3 separate regions of the Homo sapiens genome follow, and regions 1 and 2 are each linked to region 3. The links come from fine-mapping of genetic effects on gene expression. A gene starts in region 3. Each other region holds a variant in brackets. All regions are shown on one strand. Distances are from middle to middle. Region 1 has its middle 6.7 kb from the start of APOC4. Region 2 holds the start of APOC4 (apolipoprotein C4). Region 3 holds the start of APOC1 (apolipoprotein C1).

Evidence for each region.
Region 1: its variant is fine-mapped to the expression of APOC1 in testis (GTEx, PIP above 0.99). The same link has a PIP of 0.9 or more in ovary, skeletal muscle and tibial nerve.
Region 2: its variant is fine-mapped to the expression of APOC1 in lung (TOPMed, PIP above 0.99).

What each region holds. Positions count from the first base shown.
Region 1 is chr19:44,931,657-44,939,480 of GRCh38, reverse strand. No RefSeq gene overlaps it. Among named protein-coding and RNA genes, the nearest start is that of APOC4, 6.7 kb to the left of the region's middle. The variant G/C (reference allele first, on the strand shown) is at 3,575.
Region 2 is chr19:44,940,109-44,946,019 of GRCh38, reverse strand. APOC4 (apolipoprotein C4) reads right to left here and starts at 3,783. Exons shown (of 3, transcript NM_001646.3): 1 at 3,667-3,783; 2 at 1,130-1,271; 3 at 524-880. The coding sequence starts at 3,742. The coding sequence ends at 715. APOC4-APOC2 (APOC4-APOC2 readthrough (NMD candidate)) reads right to left here and starts at 3,782. Exons shown (of 6, transcript NR_037932.1): 1 at 3,667-3,782; 2 at 1,130-1,271; 3 at 1-880. The variant C/T (reference allele first, on the strand shown) is at 2,056.
Region 3 is chr19:44,910,994-44,918,817 of GRCh38, reverse strand. APOC1 (apolipoprotein C1) reads right to left here and starts at 4,210. Exons shown (of 4, transcript NM_001645.5): 1 at 4,085-4,210; 2 at 3,869-3,946; 3 at 2,493-2,628. The coding sequence starts at 3,926. RefSeq lists enhancers at 3,139-3,896, 3,897-4,656, 5,415-6,174 and a promoter at 4,071-5,197.

The DNA of each region.
Region 1 (7,824 bases), 21 kb before region 3:
CGCCTCCCGGGTTCAAGCGATTCTCCGGCCTCAGCCTCCTTAGTAGCTGGAATTATAAGCGCCTGCCACCATGCCCAGCTAATTTTTTGTATTTTTAGTAGAGACGGGGTTTCACAATGTTGGCCAGGTTGGTCTTGAACTCCTGACCTCAGGTGATCCACCTGCCTTGGCCTCTCAAAGTGCTGGGATTACAGGCGTGAGCCACCATGGCTGGCTCATTTTTTTGTATTTTTAAAGAGACAGGTTTTCACCATGTTGGCCAGGGTGGTCTCAAACTCCTGACCTCTCAGGTGATCCATCCACCTCAGCCTCCCAAAGTGCTGGGATTGCAGGCATGAGCCACTGCGCCTGGCTGCCCAGCTAATATTTTTATTTTTTGTAGAAACACAGTTTTGCCAAGTTGCCCAGACTGGTCTTGAACTCCTGGGTTCAAGTAATCCTCCCACCTCAACCTCCCAGAGTGTTGAGATTACAGGCGTGAGCCACCACACCCGGCCATGTTGTTTATATTTTACCACAATTATAAAAAAACAAAAACAGCCAGGTACTGTGGCAGGGGCTTGTAGCCCCAGCTACTCAGAAAGCTGTGGTAGAAGGATTCCTTGAGCCCAGGAGTTTGAGAGTCCAGCCTGGGCAACATAGTAAGACCCCGTCTCTTAAAAAAAAAAAAAAAAAGCTGGGCACGGTGGCTCACGCCTGTAATCCCATCACTTTGGGAGGCCAAGGCGGGCGGATCACGAGGTCAGGAGTTCGAGACCAGCCTGACCAACATGGTGAAACCCCCGTCTCTACTAAAAATACCAAAAAAAAAAAAAAAGTTAGCTGGGCATCGTGGTGGGCACCTGTAATCTCAGCTACTCAGGAGGCTGAGGCAGGAGAATTGCTTGAACCTGGAAGGTGGAGGTTGCAGTGAGCCGAGATCGCGCCACTGCACTCCAGCCTGGGCGACAGTGCGAGACTCAGTCTCAAAAAAAAAAAAAAAAACAGGCCGGGCGCGGTGGCTCACGCCTGTAATCCCAGCACTTTGGGAGGCCGAGGCGGGCGGATCACGAGGTCAGGAGATCGAGACCATCCCGGCTAAAACGGTGAAACCCCGTCTCTACTAAAAATACAAAAAAATTAGCCGGTCATAGTGGCGGGCGCCTGTAGTCCCAGCTACTTGGGAGGCTGAGGCAGGAGAATGGCGTGAACCCGGGAGGCGGAGCTTGCAGTGAGCCGAGATCCCGCCACTGCACTCCAGCCTGGGCGACAAAGCGAGACTCCGTCTCAAAAAAAAAAAAAAAAAACAACAAAAAACAAGGGCCAGCATGGTGGCTCGTGCCTGTAATCCCTGGTGGCAGGATCACCTGAGCCCAGGAGTTAAGACACTAATCTGGGCAACATAGGGAGACCTCATCTCTACTAAAAATAAAAAAAAAAAATTTAGCTAGGCGTGGTGGCATGCCCCTGTAGTCCCAGCTACTCAGGAGGCCGAGGTGGGAGGATTGTTTGAGTCTAGGAGTTCAGGGCTACAGTGAGCTATGATTGTACCATTGCATTACAGCCTGGGTGACGCTGTCTCCACAACAAACAAAAGCCCAAAATAAAAAACAAAAACAAACCTACTGTGTGTTGTGTTATGATTGGTGTGGGGTTCAGAGCCTGACTCTACCTGTTGCTTCTTTTCCTTTCTTTCCTTCCCTCCCTCCCTTCTTTGTTTTTTGAGATGGAGTCTTGCTCTATTGCCCATGTTGGAGTGCAGTGGCGCGATCTCGGCTCACTGCAACCTCCATCTCCTGGGTTCAAGCAATTCTCCTACCTGAGCCTCCCGAGTAGCTGGGACTACAGGCGCCTGCCACCACACCCAGCTAATTTTTGCATTTTTAGTATAGACAGGGTTTCACCACGTTGGCCAGGCTGGTCTTGAACTCCTGACCTCAGGCAATCCACACGCCTTGGCCTCCCAAAGTGCTGGGATTACAGGTGTAAGCCACTGCTCCTGGCCTGTTTTTTTTTCTTTTTGAGATGGAGTCTTGCTCAGTCACCCAGGCTGGAGTGCAGTGACGTGATCTCAGCTCACTGCAACCTCTGTCTCCCGGGTTCAAGCAATTCTTCTGCCTCAGCCTCCTGAGTAGCTGGGATTACAGGCGTCCGCCACCACGCCCAGCTAATTTTTGTATTTTTAGTAGAGACGGGGTTTCACCATGTTGGCCAGGCTGGTTACGAACCCCTGACCTCAAGTGATCATCCCGCCTCAGCCTCCGAAAGTGCTGGGATTATAGGCATGAGCCACCGCGCGTGGCTGACTCTACATCTTTCTAGCGGTATGACCTGGTACAAGTTGCTTTACCTGTGTGGGCCTGTTTCTTCATCCATGAATGGGAGTCATGGACTATCTACCTCATAGGGTTGCCAGGGAGAGTAAAGATCGTGCACAGAAAATGCCGCATAGGTGCCCCGTCAACGCCAGCTACTGTTTAATTCGTGCGCGCTTCCCCAGCACACACTGTGTGGCAGGAACCATGGCAGGGCTTTTAGATGATTACTTTACTTAATTGCGGTGGGGCATGGTGGCTCATGCCTGTAATCACAGCACTTTGGGAGGCTGACACAGGCAGATCACTTGAGGTCAGGAGTTCGAGATCAGCCTGGCCAATATAGTGAAACTCTGTCTCCACTAAAAATACAAAAATTAGCCAGGCATGGTTGTGGGCGCCTGTAATCCCAGCTACTTGGGAGCCTGAGGCAGGAGAATTGCTTGAACCCGGGAGGCAGAAGTTGCAGAGAGCCAAGATGGCTCAATGCACTCTAGCCTGGGTGACAGAGCTTTCCATCTCAAAAAAAAAAAAAGGTGGGGGAGCTGGGCGTGGTGGCTCATGCCTGTAATCCCAGCACTTTGGGAGGCCGAGGCAGGTGGATCACAAGGTCAAGAGATTGAGACCATCCTGGCCAACATGGTGAAACCCCATCTCTACTAAAAATGCAAAAATTAGCTGGGTGTGGTGGCGGGCGCCTGTAGTCCTAGCTACTCAGAGGCTGAGGCAGGAGAATCGCTTGAACCCGGGAGGTGGAGTTGGCAGTGAGCCGAGATCACGCCACTGCGCTCCAGCCTGGTGACAGAGTGAGACTCCATCTCAAAAAAAAAAAAAAAAAAAGAAAAAGAAAAACAAAAAAACTACTTACTTATTTGCCACAAAAACCCTATCAGGTGGGCATCTTCATCATTTCCATTGTACAGATGGAGAAACAAGCCTCAGGGTGGGGGCGCAGCCACTTACTGACGACTCCTCAACCAGCAAGTGGTGGTTTTGAACCGGGACCCTCTCACACTACCTAACCAGGCCAGGACAACCTCTGCCCCTCTCCACCAAAATCCAAGAGATCAAGGGGATGTTGGAAGTGGTATGGGCCCTGAGAGGTCTCTGACCTCTGCCGCAGCTCCAAGGTCAGCACGCAGGGAGGGCTATGTGTTTGCTGTTTGCTGCTTGCAATGTTTGCCCATATCAGGGACGGGAACAGGCTGAAGGTCATTCAGGGTGGACTTCAGAGGCAGCACACAAACAGCTGCTGGAGGATAGGAACTAAGAGGTCGGAA[G/C]GGGGCAGGGCGGGCCCAAAAACAGAGCCTGCAACTCTGTTCTCTAAGTCACCAAGCCCCAAAACCACTCTCAAATCTTTCTCTCTACCCCTGGATCCTTACCCTGGTCTGAATCCCATCCCCTCATCCCCCGAAACCCTGCACCCTCCTCCCTGCTAATCTTCTGGTGTCTCTAGCCACTCCCCTCCTGGCTGGATACTCTGGGTGATTGCAGGGAAGGCTGGGGTAAAAAAGGGTTTGAAATGTCCCTCCTAATGCATGTTGAAAAATTGAGTTATAATTCACATTCCATAAAATTTACCCTTTTTTCTTTTTCTTTTTTTTTTTTTTTTTTTTTGAGATGGAGTCTCACTCTGTTGCCCAGGCTGGAGTGCAGTGGGGCAATCTCAGCTCACTGTAGCCTCTGCCCCGCAGGTTCAAGAAATTCTCCCGCCTCAGCGTCCCAAGTAGCTGAGACTACAGGCACTTGCCACCACGCCTGGCTAATTTTTTAATTTTTCGTAAAGATGGAGTTTCACCATGTTGGTCAGGTTGGTTTCGAACTCTTGAGCTCAAGTGATCTGCCCGCCTCGGACTCCCAAAGTGCTGGGATTACAGGCGTGAGCCACCGCGTCCTGCTAAATTTACCCTTTTAAAGTGTACAGTTCAATGGTTTTTCCTATATTGGCAAGGTTGCACAATCACCACTATCTAATTTGGAACATGGCTCACTGCAGCCTCAACCTCCCTGATTCAAAGCCATCCTCCTACCTCAGCCTCCCAAGTGGCTGGAACCACAAGTGTGCACCACCATGCCCAGCTAATTTTTTTTAGGAGGGATGGGGTCTTGCTATGTTGCCCAGGCTGGTCTTGAACCTCTGAGCTGAAGCAATCCTCCCATCTTGGCCTCTCAAAGGTTAGGATTACAGGAGTGTGCCACTATGTCTGGCAGGGGATGATTTTGGAAGAGAACTGGAGGAAGTGAGGAGGGAGCCAGGCAGATATCTGGACCCCTGGGGAAGAACATTCCAGGCAAGAGGAACAGTAACTGCAAGGGCCCTGAGGTGGGAACCTGCCCAGTACATTGGAGGAATAGCAAGGAGTTGCTTGTGAGTGATGGAGAGAGAGGGATGAGGCGATCGTGAACCGGGTAGTGTCCTGTTTGTAGGCCTTTGGTAAGTTCTTCTGGGTTTGCTCTGAGAGAATCAGGAGAGTTCTGAGCAGAGGAAGAGCATAATCTGACTTGAGGCTGGGCACGGTGGCTCATGCCTGTAACCCCAGCACTTTGGGAGGCCGAGGAGGGTAGATCGCTAGAGCTGGGCAGTTTGAGACCAGCCTGGGCAACATGGTGAAACCCCGTCTCTACTACAAATACAAAAATTAGCTGGGTGTGGTGACACACACACACCTGTAGTCCCAGCTAATTGGGAGGCTGAGCAGGAGAATCGCTTGAACCTGGGAGGCAGAGGTTGCAGTGGACTGAGATGGTGCCACTGTACTCCAGCCTGGGCAACAGAGTGAGACTCCGCCTCAAAAAACAAAAAAACAAAAAATCTGACTTGAGTTCTAACAGGCTGCTGAGTGAGAAGAAAGGAGAGTATAGGAGTTTGGAGGGTTGATTTTGGGGGAGAAGGGAATGCATTAACCCCAGAGAGTAATATTTATAATTTATTTATTCTCTTTCTTTCTTCTTTTTTTGGTAGAGACGGTGTCTCACCATGTTACCCAGGCTGGTCTTGAACTCCTGACCTCAACTGATCCTCCCATCTCAGCCTTCCAAAGTGCTGGGATTACAGGCATAAGACACTATGCCCAGGTTCAGGATTTCCTTTTTTTTTTTTTTTTTTCTCCTGAGACACAGTCTCACTCTGTCATCCAGGCTGGAATGCATGGCGCAATATTGGCTCACTGCAAGCTCTGCCTCCCGGGTTCACGCCATTCTCCTGCCTCAGCCTCCCGAATAGCTGGGACTATAGGCGCCCGCCACCATGCCCAGCTAATTTTTTGTATTTTTAGTAGAGACAGTGTTTCACCATGTTAGCCAGGATGGTCTCGATCTCCTGACCTTGTGATCCACCTGCCTCGGCCTCCCAAAGTGCTGGGATTACAGGCGTGAGTCACTGCGCTCGGCCCAGGATTTCCTTTTATGTTTTGAGATGGAGTCTTGCTCTGACGCCCAGGCTGGAGTGCAGTGGCATGATCTCAGCTCACTGCAGTCTCTACCTCCTGGTTCAAGCTATTCTCACGCCTCAGCCTCCCAAGTAGCTGGGATTACAGGCACACGCCACCATGCCTGGCTAATGTTTGCATTTTTAGTAGAGATAGGGTTTCACCATGTTGGACAGGATAGTCTCCAACTCCTGGCCTCGAGTGATCCTCCTGCCTTGGCATCCCAAAGTGCTGGGATTACAGGTGGGAGCCACCGAGCCTGGCTTCAGGAGTTCCTTTTTTTATTTTTTGAGATGGAGTTTTGTTCTTGTCGCCCAGGCTGGAGTGCAACGGCACGATCTCTGCTCAGTGCAGCCTCCGCCTCCTGGGTTCCAGTGATTCTCCTGCCTCAGCCTCTTGAGTAGCTGGGTTTACAGGCACCCGCCACCATGCCTGGCTGATTTTTTTTGTATTTTTAGTAGATACGGGGTTTCACCATGTTGGCCAGGATGGTCTCCAACTCCTGGCCTCAAGTGATCCTCCTGCCTCGACCTCCGAAAGTGCTGGGATAACATGTGTGAGCCACAGAGCCCGGCCTCAGGGTTTCCTTTTTAAGGATGCTTTACATTCCATTGCACGTATAGACCACATTTCCTTGACCCATTCATCTGTTGATAAACATTTAGGTTGTTTCCATATCTTGGGTATTAAGCAGACCTGCAGTGAACATGGGAGGGCAGGTATCTCTTCAAGGTCCTGATTTCAATTCTTTTGAATAAATACCCAGAAATGAGATTGCAGGATCATTTGGTAGTTCTATTTTTAATGTTTTGAGGAAACCCCATACTGTTTTCCACAGTGGCTGCAGTGTTTGGTGTTCCCACTCGCATTGTAGGAGTCCCTTATATATTTTGAATATTAACCCCTTATTAGATATATGGCTTTCAAATATTGTTCTTATGCAATCTTAAGCTGGGCGCAGTGGCTCACACCTGTAGTCCCAACACTTTGGGATGCCAAGGCGGGCGGATCACTTGATGTCAGGAGTTCGAGACTAGCCTGGCCAACATGGTGAAACTCTGTCTCTACTAAAAATACAACAAAAGTAGCCAGGTGTGGTGGCACATGCCTGTAATCCCAGCTACTTAGGAGGCTAAGGCAAAAAAATCACTTGAATTTGGGAGGCAGAGGTTGCAGTGAGTGGAGATCGCATCATTGCACTTCAGCCTGGGTGACAGAGCCAGACTCCATCTCAAAAAAAATTTTTTTTTTACATAGGGTTGTTTTGCATGTGCATGTGGTTTAATTTTACGTAAGAGCTGGGCACAGTGGCTCACGCCTGTAATCCCACCACTTTGGGAGGCCAAGGCAGGAGGACTGCTTGAATCCAGGAGTTGGAGACCAGACTGGCCAGCACGATAAAATGCTGTCTCTACTAAAAATACAAAAATTAGCTGGGTGTGGTGGCACACACCTGTAATCCCAGATACTAGGGAGGCTAAGGCAGGAGAATCTGTTGAACCCAGGAGGCGGAGGTTGCAGTGAGCCGAGATCATGCCCCTGCACTCCAGCCTGGGGTACAGAGTGAGACTCTGTCTCAAGAAAAAAAAAAAAAGGCCAGGCGAGGTGGCTCATGCCTGTAATCCCTGCACTTTGGGAGGCCATGGCAGGCAGATCATGTGAAGTCAGGAGTTCAAGACCAGCCTGATCAACATGGAGAAACCTCGTCTCTACTAAAAATACAAAAATTAACCAGGCATGGTGGCACGCACCTGCAATCCCAGCTACTTGGGAGGCTGAGGCAGGAGACTCCCTTGAACCTGGGAGGCGGAGGTTGCAGTGAACTGAGATGGTGCCATTGTACTCCAGCCTGGGCAAGAGGAGCGAAACTCTGTTTCAAAACAAAACAAAACAAAACAAAAAACCTCAGCCCCTCATCTCGGGTAGACCACACTAGGAAAAGTGTAGCATAGTGACATTGCCTGGCTGAGGGTTCAATCTAGTTCCAGTTCTCCACTTCCTGGCTGTGTGACCTTATACAAGTAGCCTCACCTCTCTGGGCCTCAATGCCCTTATGGGATTATTAAGTCCCAGTTTGCAAGGTTCTTAGGAAGATTCTTTTG
Region 2 (5,911 bases), 28 kb before region 3:
TGGTTGAGACCCACTTCCGCTCCACAGCCACAACCCCCATCCTTTGTCTAGGCCAAAGTCCTGGCCAACAGAACTGCGGAGGGGGTGGGTGGGGACAGAAAGGGCAATGACGTCCCCCAAGGTCACGTCACAGGGAACCTTCTCTCAAGTGACAGGGAACCCTCACTCTGAGAATTCGCCTCCGACAGAGGCTGGGTTGGGGGCTGTGGAGGGGTTGGAGGTGCTGGGTGCCCACTGGGAATGGAGTCAGAGCTTGTAGGAGACAAGGGCGAAGCTCTCAGTGAGGGCCATCATGGGGACCTGCTGACTCCACCCACGCTCCTGCCCTCACCCTCCTGAAACTGACACGCCTTGAAGTCCCCCATTCTCCGCAAGCCCACAATAGGGTGTTATTCCTTGATACCCTTCCCGACCTCCCTACTCTTCCTTCCCCATCAGGTGTCACCTCTTCTACTCATTGATTCCTGGGAGGCAGTGGGGTGGGTTTTTTTCTGGCCACACTGGGGAAGGATCCAGACAGGGACACAGGTGAGACTTTATTTATTGGAGAAGTATGAACTTTTTTTTTTCTTTTTGTTTTACCCCCAAGAGATCTCGCTGTGTTGCCCAGGCTGGTCTCGAACTCCTGGGCTCAAGCCATCATCCTACCTCAGCCTCCTGAGTAGCTGGGACTACAGGCACCCGCCACAACCACACCTGGCTTTTATGAACATTTTAACCCTGGTCCTTGTCCCCACAGACAAGCCTGGGGCACAGGCTGTGGGTCTTCTTCAAGAGGCTGTCTTTGGATTCGAGGAACCAGGCCTTGGTGAGCGGACCCAGGTCCCTCAGGTGGTCGTCATAGTAGGTCTGCATGAAGCCCCGGAAGGTGCTCGGGCTCCTACAGGAGAGAGGACATCACAGTGGAGGCCCCAGCTCTCCCCAGGTGTTCTCTGCCCCATTTATCCGCTCCTCTCTGTGACCTAGGAGTTCCTGCTCTCAGCTCTAACCCTCCACTCCTCCCAGACCTAGGGGTCACAGCCCCACTCCCACCCTTTCCTCCTCCCTGAGACTCAGGGGTCCAGGCCCCAGCCCCTCCTCCCTCAGACCCAGGAGTCCCCTCCCACCACCCAGCCCAGCACACCCTCACCAGAACCATTGCCACCCGTCTCTGGTCCTGTTCACCACTGTCTCCAGCAGCTCCTTCATCCTGCCCCTCACCAGGCTCCAGCGACTCATCTTTAGCTTTGGTGGGGGGCTCAGGGTTCCTTCCTGGGCCTCTGGCTGGCATGCTAGGTGGAACCAGAGGGCAACTTGGGTAGGCTGGGACCCTAGAATCCCCTTCTCCCTTTCCCTCCATGCTCATCCTGTGTCGCTCCCGGTGGCCCAGGGGCAGCCCCCTGCCAGTCCTCTTGCCTCCTGCCTTTACCCTTATGTGTCCCCTGACCGCTAACCCCTCTTTAACCATCAGCCATCTCTTTTTTTTTTTCTTTTTTCTTTTTTTTTATGAGACAGAGTCAGTCTCTTGCTCTGTTGCCCAGGGTGGAGTGCAGTGTCATGATCTCGTCTCATTGCAACCTCCACCTCCTGGATTCAGGCAATTTTCCTGCCTCAGCCTCCCGAGTAGCAGGGATTACAGGCATCTGCCATCATGCCCGGCTAATTTTTGTATTTTTAGAAGAGATGGGGTTTTGCCATGTTGGGGCCTCGAACTCCTGACCTCAAGTGATCCACCCACCTCGGGCTCCCAAAATGCTGGGATTACAGATGTGAGCCACCCCGTCCGGCTGGGCCATCTCTTCACCTTGTGTCAGTAGTCCCTCCTGTCACCCTGTCTGCCTGTGGTTCCCCTCTAATGGCCTCTCTAATTGCCATCCTCTGATGCCTCCCTTCACCACCTGATTTTGCTGCCCAGGAACTACCCCCTTCTCCCTTCGTTCTCCTGTGACCCCCACCCTGTCTGAGCTACCTCTGTGGACAGTGGAGGGAGAGCAGGAGGTGACTTTCTGCCCCCAGGGGCAGACATTGGCTTAGCCTTGCTGTCAGTTCCTCTTTCCGGGCCAGACCTTCTACCCA[C/T]GCATCTGGACAAAGCCTCGCCTACAGAGACCAGCCGTCACGCGGGGGCCACATGTAGCTAGCTGTGTGCCTTGGCCGGTGACTTATCCTGTCTCCCCAGGACTGTTTCTCCTTTTGTAGAACGGGGTAATAATATCTACCTCAGGGTTATCGTGAGAATTAAGAGTTACTACATACGATGCACATGGAATGGTGCCTTGCACATTGTCTACATACGTGTTAAATTTTTTTTTTTTTTCAGACGGAGTCTCGCTCTGTCACCCAGGTTGGAATGCAGTGGCGCGATCTCGGCTCACTGCAACCTCTGCCTCCCGGGTTCAAGTGATTCTCCGGCCTCAGCCTCCCGAGTAGCTGGGACTACAGGCGCATGCCACCATGCATGGCTAATTTTTTGTATTTTTAGTAGAGATGGGTTTTTACCCATCTGTTAGCCAGGATGATCTCAAATCTCCTGACCTTGCGATCCACCCGCCTCGGCCTCCGAAAGTGCTGGGATTACAGGCATGAGCCACCGTGCCTGGCCCTGTATTAAAAATTTAAATTTCTACTGGATAATGCTGATCTAGAATATGATCCCATTTTAACATAAAGTACATGGCCGGGCGTGGTGGCTCATGCCTGTAATCCCAGCACTTTGGGAGGCCAAGGCGGGCGGATCACCTGAGGTCAGGATTTCAAGACCAGCCTGGGCAACATGGCAAAACCCTGTCTCTACCAAAAATATAAAAAAATTAGCCAGGCATTGGCCAGGCGCAGTGGCTCACGCCTATAATCCTAGCACTTTGGAAGGCCGAGGCAGGCGGATCACGAGGTCAGGATATGGAGACCATCCTGGCTAACACGGCGAAACCCCGTCTCTAGTAAAAATACAAAAAATTAGCCAGGCGTGGTGGTGGGCTCCTGTAGTCCCAGCTACTCGGGAGGCTGAGGCAGGAGAATGGCGTGAACCCGGGAGGCGGACGTTGCAGTGAGCCAAGATCACGCCACTGCACTCCAGCCTGGGTAACAGAGCGAGACTCCGTCTCAAAAAAAAAAAATTAGCCAGGCATGGTGGCGTGTGTCTGTAGTCCCAAATACTCTGAAGACTGAGGCAGGAGAATCCCTTGAAACGGGTAGGCGGATGATGCAGTGAGCCAAGATCGCACCACTGCTACCACTGCACTCCAGCCTGGGTGACAGAGTGAGACTCCGTCTCAAAAAAAAAAAAAAAAATGCATATGCAAAACACAGACGTACACACCAGCACACACTCACCCCCTCACACATGTCCACACACTCAAATATTTTGCACACACATACCCCACAGAGAGACAGGTGCACACAAATACACATATGCACACAGACATGCACTTTTTTACCACGACTGCATACTCCCACTTCCACGCACGCACGTGCACACACACAGATGATCCCAGTTTGTACCAATGTGACATTCACACTTCACTCTCAGCCACCGACACACACACTCCCCGACACGCACATGCATACGCACGCCATGAAACGCACACACTCCGTACTCATGTCTCACGTGGCTACAGAGCCACAGGACACACAGCCACACTCACACCCACCAGGTGTGGGCCCCACATCCCTCCACCCACTTCTTCTCACCCCCAATGCAGGCCAGGACCAGCACGCAGAGGCACAGGGCAGGCAGGGCCTGGAGCCTGTTTCTGAGGAGGGACATTTCTGGGGGTTCCGTGCCTCTGTCCCTCTGTGCTCAACTCTGCGGGCCGGGGGAGGGGAGGCTGCACAGAGCAGGGCCCTCCCCCGGCCACCTCCCCGCTTGGCAGAGACTTCAGAGAGCAGGGCCCAGGTGACAGTGGCAATCAGAGGTCATGCCTCTGTGGGCCTCCCTCCTTCTCACCCTCCCACACAGTGCCCTGAGAGAAGACAGAGGCTCTTGAGCCTCCTGCACTGAGGCAGGTTCAAATCCTGTCTCCACCTCCCATGACAGCCTCATTTGCTGGCCTCAGTTTCCTCCTCCATAAAGTGGGAGGCACAGTACATATTTCAGTATATTACTTGAACAAATACAAAGAAAGGCGCAGTGGCTCACGCCTGTAATCCCAGCACTTTGGGAGGCCGAGGTGGGCAGATCATATGAGGCCAGGAGTTTGAGACCAACCTGGCCAACATGGTGAAAAACCCTGTCCCTACTAAAAATACAAAAATTAGCCAGAAGTAGTGATGCGTGCCTGTAATCCCAGCTACTTGGGAGGCTGAGGCAGGAGAATGGCTTGAACCCGGGAAGTGAAGGCTGCAGTGAGCCGCGATCACACCACTGCACTCCAGCCTGGGTGACAGAGCAAGACTCTGTCTTGAAACAAAACAAAACAAAAAATGAAGAAAGCTCTTACCGTGGAGACTGGCAATATAGGTGCTCAAAGATCATTGCTGTTGGCCAGGCGCGGTGGCTCATGCCTGTAACCCCAACACTTTGGGAGGCCGAGGCAGGCGGATCACGAGGTCAGGAGATTGAGACCATCTTGGCTAACACGGTGAAACCCCATCTCTACTAAAAATATGAAAAATTAGCCAGGCGTGGTGGCAGGCGCCTGTAGTCCTAGCTACTCGGGAGGCTGAGGCAGGAGAATGGCGTGAACCTGGGAGGTGGAGCTTGCATTGAGCCGAGATCGCGCCACTGCAGTCCAGCCTGGGCGAAAGAGCAAGACTCCGTCTCAGAAAAAAAAAAAAGATCATTGCTGTTATTATTATCTTGTGTCTAATTTCTCCTAGTCACTGGGCTGCAGGGCCAGGCTTGTGGTAGGGCCTCAATAGGGCCCAAGGGTTGATGAGAGGAAATAGCAACACAGTCTCATGTCTCCAGCCTCTGTTTCTTCCTAGGTGGGCTCGAGCCCGATCACTTCCAAGCATTCCTTGAGTTCTCAATTCCAACTCTTTCTCCTCTGGGTGACTCTGGCTTCAGATGGACCTGGGCTTCGAATCCCTCACTTCTTCACCGTGTGACCTGGGCAAATACGTTTTCTTTTCTGGGGCTCAGTTTGTTCAACTGTAACACGGGGTTGATAGGGAGCACCTGCCTCCCAGTGTCCTCATGCAGGACGGCTGAGGCCTATGCAGGAGAGCTGCAGGTGCACATAGTAGGAGGTCATCAACATCAGGCCCAGGGCCAGGGCGGTGGCTCCCACCTGTAATCCCAGCACTTTGGGAGGCCGAGGCAGGCGGCTCACTTGAGGTCAGGAGTTCAAGACCAGCCTGGCCAACGTAGTGAAACCCCGTCTCTACTAAAAATACAAAAATTAGCCGGGTGTGGTGGAGCGAGACCTTGTCTCAAAAACAATAACAACAACAAAAACCAACAAAAAACCCACATCAGGCTCGGTCCCAGTGCCAGAAATAGAGCATTTTTCTCCTGAAGGACCCAGCTGCACCCCAGGGCACATGGCTCAGGGGACTATGGACTGGATTCTTTTTTTTTTTTTTGAGACAGAGTCTGGCTCTGTCGCCCAGGCTGGAGTGCTGTGGCGCGATCTCGGCTCACTGCAAGCTCCGCCTCCCAGGTTCACGCCATTCTCCTGCCTCAGCCTCCCGAGTAGCTGGGACTACAGGCACCCGCCACCACGCCCAGCTAATTTTTTGTATTTTTAGTAGAGACGGGGTTTCACCGTGTTAGCCAGGATGGTCTCGATCTCCTGACCTCGTGATCCGCCCGCCTCGGCCTCCCAAAGTGCTGGGATTACAGGCTTGAGCCACTGCGCCTGGCCTGGACTGGATTCTTTTGTCTACGCTTGCCAGACGAAATAGAGGAGGCCCAATTACATTTGAATTTCAAATCAACAGTGCATGACGTTTTAGTATAAATATGTCCCATGAAATATTTCAGAATTATACC
Region 3 (7,824 bases):
TGTGGTGTCACACACCTGTAGTTCCAAGTACTCATGAGGCTGAGGCAGGAGAATTGCCTGAACCCGGGAGGTGGAGGTTCCAGTAAGCCGAGATCGCACCACTGTACTCCAGTCTGGGTACATCTCAAAAAGAAAAAATAAGGCCGGGCGCCGTGGCTCACGCCTGTAATCCCAGCACTTTGGGAGGCCGAGGCGGGTGGATCACCAGGTCAGGAGATCGAGACCATGCTGGCTAAGAATACAAAAAATTCTACTAAGTAAATTCTACATTCTACTAAGAATACAAAAAATTAGCTGGCGTGGTGGCAGGTGCCTGTAGTCCCAGCTACTCGGGAGGGTGAGGCAGGAGAATGGCATGAACCCGGGAGGCGGAACTTGCAGTGAGCCGAGATCAGGCCACTGCAATCCAGCCTGGGTGACAGAGCGAGACTCCGTCTCAAAAAAAAAAATTTAAAAAGAAAAAAAAAAAAAAAAAAAAAAGAAACACTTCACCCTGGCCTGGCTTTCAAGGCCTGCCATCTCTTGCTACCAATGCCTTCCTTTTTTTTTTGAGATGGAGTTTCGCTCTGTCACCTGGACTGGAGTGCAATGGCACTGTCTCGGCTCACTGCAACCTCTGCCTCCCAGGTTCAAGCCATTCTCCTGCCTCAGCCTCCCGAGTAGCTGGGACTACAGGTGCCTGCCACCACACCCAGCTAATTTTTGTATTTTTAGTACAGAGAGGGTTTCATTATGTTGAGCAGGCTAGTCTCGAACTCCTGACCTCGTGATCCGCCTGCTCAGCCTCCCACAGTGCTGGGATTACTGGCGTGAGCCACCGCGCCAGGAGTTTTTTTTCTTTTTTGGCATGGAGTCTCGCCTTGTCGCCCAGGCTGGAGTGCAGTGGCATGATCTCGGCTCACTGCAACCTCCGCCTCCCGGGTTCAAGTGATTCTCCTGCCTCAGGCTCCCGAGTAGCTAGGACTACAGGAATGCACCACCACGCCCGGCTAATTTTGTATTTTTAGTAGAGACAGGGTTTCTCCATGTTAGGCTGGTCTCGAACTCCTGACCTCAGGTGATCTGCTTGCCTTGGCCTCCCAAAGTGCTGGGATTACAGGTGTGAGCCATTGTGCCTGGCCTCCAAACGATCTTTCTAAGTTTATGCCTGGCTCTATTTTCCCTCCCTCCCTCCCTTCCTTCCTCCCTCCCTCCCTGTCTTTCTTTTCTCTTTTCTTCTCTTTTCTTTTCTTTTTTTGTTGAGACAGGGTCTCATTCTGTTACCCAGGCTGGAATGCAGTGGCACAAACATGGCGCACTGCAGCCTAGATCTCCTGGGCTCAAGCAATCCTCTCGCCTCAGCCTCCCAAGGAGCTGGGACTACAGGCATGGGCCACCATGCCCAGCTAATTTTTTTTGCATTTCTATTAGGGACGGGGTTCTCGCACTCCTGACCTCAAGTGATCCACCCACCTCGGCCTTCCAAAGTGGTGGGGTTACAGGTGTGAGCCACCGTGCTCGGCACGTTCTTCACTGTTTTATTCCCCACATTGAAACAGTTTCCAGCACTTAGCAGATGCTCAGTAAATATTTTTGAAAGAACGAATGACTCTCTAACTTGCCAAAGGGGGCAAGGGTGGGTTTCATGATATACTGAGCATCTACATGTACCAGACACCCTGTAGGCCTGCTCCTTTACTTCCCTGTAGAACCACCAGTTTATAGGAGAGGAAACTGAGGCTCACAGTAATGCCCCTCTGTCAAGATCACACAGGAAGGGGTGCTACTCCAGCCTGGGGACCCAGGTCTGGCCAAGCTTGGGGCCTTCATTTTCATTACCTCACAAAACCATCTTTTTTTTTTTTTTTTTAAATGGAGACAGGATCTCGCCATGTTGGTCAGGCTGGTCTCGAACTCCTGGGCTCAAGCAATCCTCCCATCTCAGCCTCCCATAGTGCTGGAATTACAGGTGTGAGCCACCATACCTGGGCAAGACCATCTTGTTTTTTTTTTTTTTTTTTTTTTTTTTGAGACAGAGTCTCCTTCTGTCACCCAGGCTGGCACAATGTTGGCTCACTGTAACTCCCACCTTCCTGGTTCAAGCAATTCCCCTGCCTCAGCCTCCCGACTAGCTGGGATTACAGGTGCACGCCACCATGCCTGCCTAATTTTTTTGTATTTTTAGTAGAGACAAGGTTTCACCATGTTGGTCAGACTGGTCTCGAACTCCTGACCTCAGGCAATCAGCCCACCTCGGCCTCCCTAAGTGCTGGGATTGCAAGCATGAGCCACCGTGCCCAGCCCAAGACCATCTTTTAAAATATGGCCTGGATGGGAGTCAGGGAAACTGTCCTTGAAGTCTGAGCACCTTGAGATCTAGCTGTGTGACCAGAGGGATGTTGTCAGCCTCTCCAGGACTTGTTTTTTTTTCAATCTGTTCATCTTGGACCATCTGCCAGGGCTCCACCCAAAAACACACCCCAGCTCTCCCGTGCCCTGGGAAGGGTTCTAACCGCATCTTGGCAGAAAGTTCACTCTGTTTGATGCGGCTGATGAGTTCCCGAGCCTTGTCCTCCAGTGTGTTTCCAAACTCCTTCAGCTTATCCAAGGCACTGGAGACGTCTGGGGTCCCCTGGGCTGGGGCTGGGCCTGCCAGGAAGATGGGCAGGGGTTCAAAATTTGTTTTTTTTTTTTTTTTTTTGGAGATGGAGTCTTGCTCTGTAGCCCAAGCTGGAGTGCAGTGGCATGATCTCGGCCTACTGCAACCACCACCTCCCGGGTTCAAGCAGTTCTCCTGCCTCAGCCTCCCAAGTAGCTGGGATTACAGGTGTGCACCACCACACCCAGCTATTTTTGTTTTGTTTTGTTTTGAGACGGAGTCTTGCTGTGTCAGCCAGGCTGGAGTGCAGTGGTATGATCTCGGCTCACTGCAACCTCCGCCTCCCGGGTTCAAGTGATTCTCCTGCCTCAGCCTCCCGAGTAGCTGGGCCTACAGGCGCGTGCCTCCACACCTGGCTAATTTTTTTGTATTTTTAGTAGAGACGAAGTTTCACCATGTTGGCCAGGCTGGTTTCGAACTCCTGACCTCAAGTGATCTGCCCGCCTCGGCCTCCCAAAGTGCTGGGATTACAGGCATGAGCCACCCTGCCCGGCCAAAAATTTGTTATTGGAACCCCCTTAGGTTGGGATACCGGGATGGATAGAGATCCTTGGGGATCATGTGGTTAGAATGGGGAGGAATGGCCGGACGCGGTGGCTCACGCCTGTAATCCCAGCACTTTGGGAGGTCGAGGCAGGCGGATCACAAAGTCAGGAGATCGAGACCACGGTGAAACCCTGTCTCTACTGAAAATACAAAAAATTAGCCGGGCGCGGTGGCGGGCGCCTGTAGTCCTGCTGAGGCAGGAGAATGGCGTGAACCAGGGAGGCGGAGCTTGCAGTGAGCCGAGATCGCGCCACTGCACTCCAGCCTCGGCGACAGAGCGAGACTCCGTCTCAAGAGAAAAAAAAAAAAAAAAAAAAAGAATGGGGAGGAATACTGGAGTGACCTGGTGGGGCTCAAGCTGCTGGGAATTGCCTTACTCAGCACTGACCTCTCCCAGAGCCCCCCACCCAGCTTACCCACTTTCAAGGCTGTCGAAGCAGGACAGCCAATCCCAGAGGTGTGGGCCTCAATACGTCATCGGTTGCTAGTGCTCTCCTGCGCAGATTTGGCGCCTGCGGGACTGAGCCTGGGAGAACCTGGAGACCCACCCGACCACGATGAGGCAACCACGACCCAGAAGGGGCCCCGGAGCTCTCAGAGGTCCTCTAAGCCGGGACCCCAGGCCTGTAGCCACCTTCACTCTTCCAAATCTCCAACTCCGCAATTCTCCCATCCCACTTTTACCTTCCAAGACGATCGACAGAACCACCACCAGGACCGGGAGCGACAGGAAGAGCCTCATGGCGAGGCCGGAGGGGCACTCTGGAGGCAGAGGCAGGGGTTCAGGGGATCAGTGGCACCCTCCTCCCTCCCTACCTCCCTCCCACGATCCCCTCATCTCCCTTTTTGAGTTTCTTGCAGAGTGTAGGCGGGTGTCCCTCCCAGGCACTCAGCACCAACCTGAATCCTTGCTGGAGGGCTTGGTTGGGAGGTCCTGTCCTGCCCGCAGGACCTTTATCAGGCTGGGGAGGGGGCGGGGCAGGTTGATGTTGATCTCCCTCCTCCTGAGCCTTCCCCTGACCGCCTGCCTCCCTCTGTCCACCCACGTTTTTCTCCTCTGCCCCTGTCCCGTGAGCGTTGGGGTCAGGTGGGGTCCCGGGCACTTCCCTTAGCCCCAAAGCCCCTCCCCGTTCAGCACTCTCACCTCTCAATCTTCCTGACTCTGTGGGGTCCTCAGACCACCTTAGTCCCTTTCCCCACTCAGAATGTAGCAGGAGGAGCCGCAGACAAAATTCCTCAGACGCTGAGTTAAGGAAGGGGTTTATTCGTTCGGGGAATGGGCAAGATTCCTGTCTCAAGAGCCGAGCTCCCCGAGTGAGCAATCCCTGTTCCTTTTAAGGGCTCACAACTCTAAGTGGGTGCACGTGAGAGGGTCGTGATCGATTGAACAAGCAGGGGATGCGTGACTGGGGGCTGCATGCACCGGTAATTAGATCGGAACAAAACAGAATAGGGATTTTCACAGTGCTTTTCTATACAATGTCTGTAATCTATAGATAACCTAACGGATTAGGTCAGGGGTCAATCTTTAACCACCAGGCCCAGGGTGTGGCGCGGGCTGTCTGCTTGTGGATTTCATTTCTGCCTTTTAGTTTTTACTTTTTCTTTCTTTGGAGGCAGAAATTGGGCATAAGACAATATGAGGGGTGGTCTCCTCCCTTAAGAAGACAGCCTTGTCCTGTCCCTGTGGCCATCTTCCCTCAGGGGTCTCCCAGTAATAACCCTGTGATCTCATCCCCCCCTCATTCACACCGTGTCCCTAGATCACCTCTTTCCCTCACTTCCCCTCTCTCAGCAAGCCTCCTCAGCCCCAACAACTTTTCCTTTATGTTGCTGGGTCTCCCAGTTGGCCCGGCGCTCCTACCCTGCGTGCCACCTCCAATTTATTCCAGACCAGCCCTTGAAGCACCCCAGACCACCGTGATATTCTCTGGGCTCTTAACTTCATGGTTCTCAGTCTCCCTTTTTTGGGAGGGGAACGGGTCGCCTTAGCTGGATGACACTGCAAAAACCTCACCTGCATTAGCCAGGCATGGTGGCTCATGCCTGTAATCCCAGCACTTTGGGAAGCTGAAGAGGGAGGATCACTTGAGCCTGGGAGTTCGAGACCAGCCTGGGCAATATAGGGAGACCTCATCTCTACAAAAAAGTTCAAAAATTAGCCGAGCGTGGTGGCGCATGCCTGTAGTCCCAGCTACTCAAGAGGCTGAGGTAGGAAGATTGCTTGAGCCCAGGAGTTCGAGGCTGCAGTGAGCTGTGATTGTGCCACTGCACTCCAGCCTGGTGGGACAGAGACCCCATCTCAAAAAATTAAAACCCTCAGCTGCAAAGCTCTGCGTGTATGTCCCTTCTTCCCTTCCACCGGGCCTCACCCCCTTTGGCTGGCTACCTCCCCCAAACACTCTATCTGCTTTTATTCACCCTCTGACGCCCCTCCTGGCACCAAGCCTGCTTCCCACCATCACTACATCCGTCCCCCAAGGCTGGAGTCCAATGCCTTCCCCACCAGCTGCCTTTGACCGCCAGTGACCCTGGCAGCTGGTGGGGAGGGTGTCCTCCGCCTAGCCTCAGACTCTAGGTTGGCTGGCCTTGTGCCCCCGCAACCACGTGTCAGCCTGGCAGTAGGGGGATGGTTGTGAAAAGGACAGCATAGACAAGACCCTGGCAGGATTGCAACATCCCTCTGGCCAGCTCAGAGCTTCCAGTCCCTGTCAGCCCCAGGGGCCCCCCTACTTCCCCAACTAAGCCCAGCACCCCCCAAACATCCACCCAGATGTCTGCTTCCCAGACCCCACAAGAATAGCATAACAATGCTCCTGCTTTTCCAACCTCATCCTCCCCTCTGCTATAGGGGTTTCTCTTTAATAGATGGGGAAACTGTCGCATAACCAAGAACATCCAGTAGGGCTCAGCGAGGGGCAAAGATGGGGGCTACTGGCTGGTTGCAGTGGCTCACGCCTGTATTCCCAGAACTTTGGGAGGCCAAGGTGGGCGGAGCACTTGAGGTCAGGAGTTCGAGACCTGCCTGGCCAACATGGTGAAACTCCGTCTCTACCAAAAATTCAAAAATTATCCAGGCATGGTGGTGTGCACCTGTGGTCCCAGCTACTCAGGAGGCTGAGGCAGGAGAGTCGTTTGAACCCATGAGGTGGAGGTTGCAGTGAGCCAAGATTGTGCCACTGCACTCCAGCTTGGGTGACAGAGTGAGACTCCGTCTCAAAAACATAAAAAAAATTTAAAAAAGGGGGCTCTTTGTCCTTCTCCTTCCCAGGCTCCAGGATGTCTCTGTGGATGGTTGCTGGGTCAGCTCCTGTCCCATACGACTCCCTGCCAGCCTTTGTTCTGGAACCTCCTTCCCATCCTTGTCCCACCTCTGGATCTGACTGGGGATGTGGTGAGATAGGGCACCCTGTCTGCTTAGACATCTTCATAGGTTGGTGGGGCGTGGTGGCTCACACCTGTAATCCAACTACTTTGGGAAGCTTTGGCAGGAGGATCTGCTTGAGCCCAAGAGTTTGAGATCAGCCTGGGCAACATAGTAAGACCCCATCTCTACAAAAAAGTTTAAAATATGGCCAGGCATGGTGGCTCACTCCTGTAATCCCAGTGCTTTGGGAGGCCGAGGCGGGTGGATCACCTGATGTCAGGAGTTTGAGACCAACCTGACCACCGTGGTGAAACCTCGTTTCTACTAAAAATACAAAAATTAGCCTGGTGTGGTGGTGTGCGCCTGTAATTCTAGCTACTCAGGAGGCTGAGGCAGGAGAATTGCTTGAACCCGGGGGGCAGAGGTTGCGGTGAGCCAAGATGGTGCCACTGCACTCCAGCCTGGGCGACAGAGTGAGACTCCATCTCAAAAAAGAAAGAATTAGCCAGGCATGGTGGTGGGTGCCTGTGGCCCCAGCTACTCAGGAGGTTGAGGCAGGAGGGTTGCTTGAGTTGGAGGCTGCAGTGATTGATGATCGTGCTACTGCACTCCAGCGTGGTCGACTGAGCAAGGCACTGTCTCAAAAAAAAAAAAAAATTCTTAAAGGTGAGAACTCAAGGTTCGATTCTTCAGGTGGGAGATGTGGCTGATGCTGATTCTCTCATTGACATCTGGGGAAACTGAGGCTCTGAGAGGGTGCTGCTCCAGCTCCTGGACATACGGTGAATCAGCAGCAGGCCCAGCAGACCAGGCCCCCTGCCTGTGAGCACACTGACCCTTCCCCTCCTCACTCAGCCCTGGTGAGTCATCTCCAGGGGAGGGGTGCTGCCTCCACGTGGGTGATCAGAGCAGTGCCAGGGAAAGCACCAAGTTCAGGGTGTGCAGGAGCCAAGATGGGCAGAGGGACAAGCAGATGTTGCAGCTGGCCCAGGAGATACAAGCTCAAGTCTCAGCCTGTCCCCCGTTGGTGGGAACCCTCCTCCCCGTCTCTGAGAACTGAGGGGGTGGGAGGAGAAGAGAGTGCCGGCGGCTCCTGGGCTTCCATCCAAGCTTCCCCTCTCTGAGCGCCAGCTCTCGTCTCAGCATGGGCCTGGTGCAGACTCCGACAGAAGAGCCGCTCCCTTCTCTTCCCAGCCTGGATTCAGCACCCAGTAGGCTTGTTGGGAAACATGAGGGGTAGACATCACAACTGGAGGAAAGGATGGAGAATGAG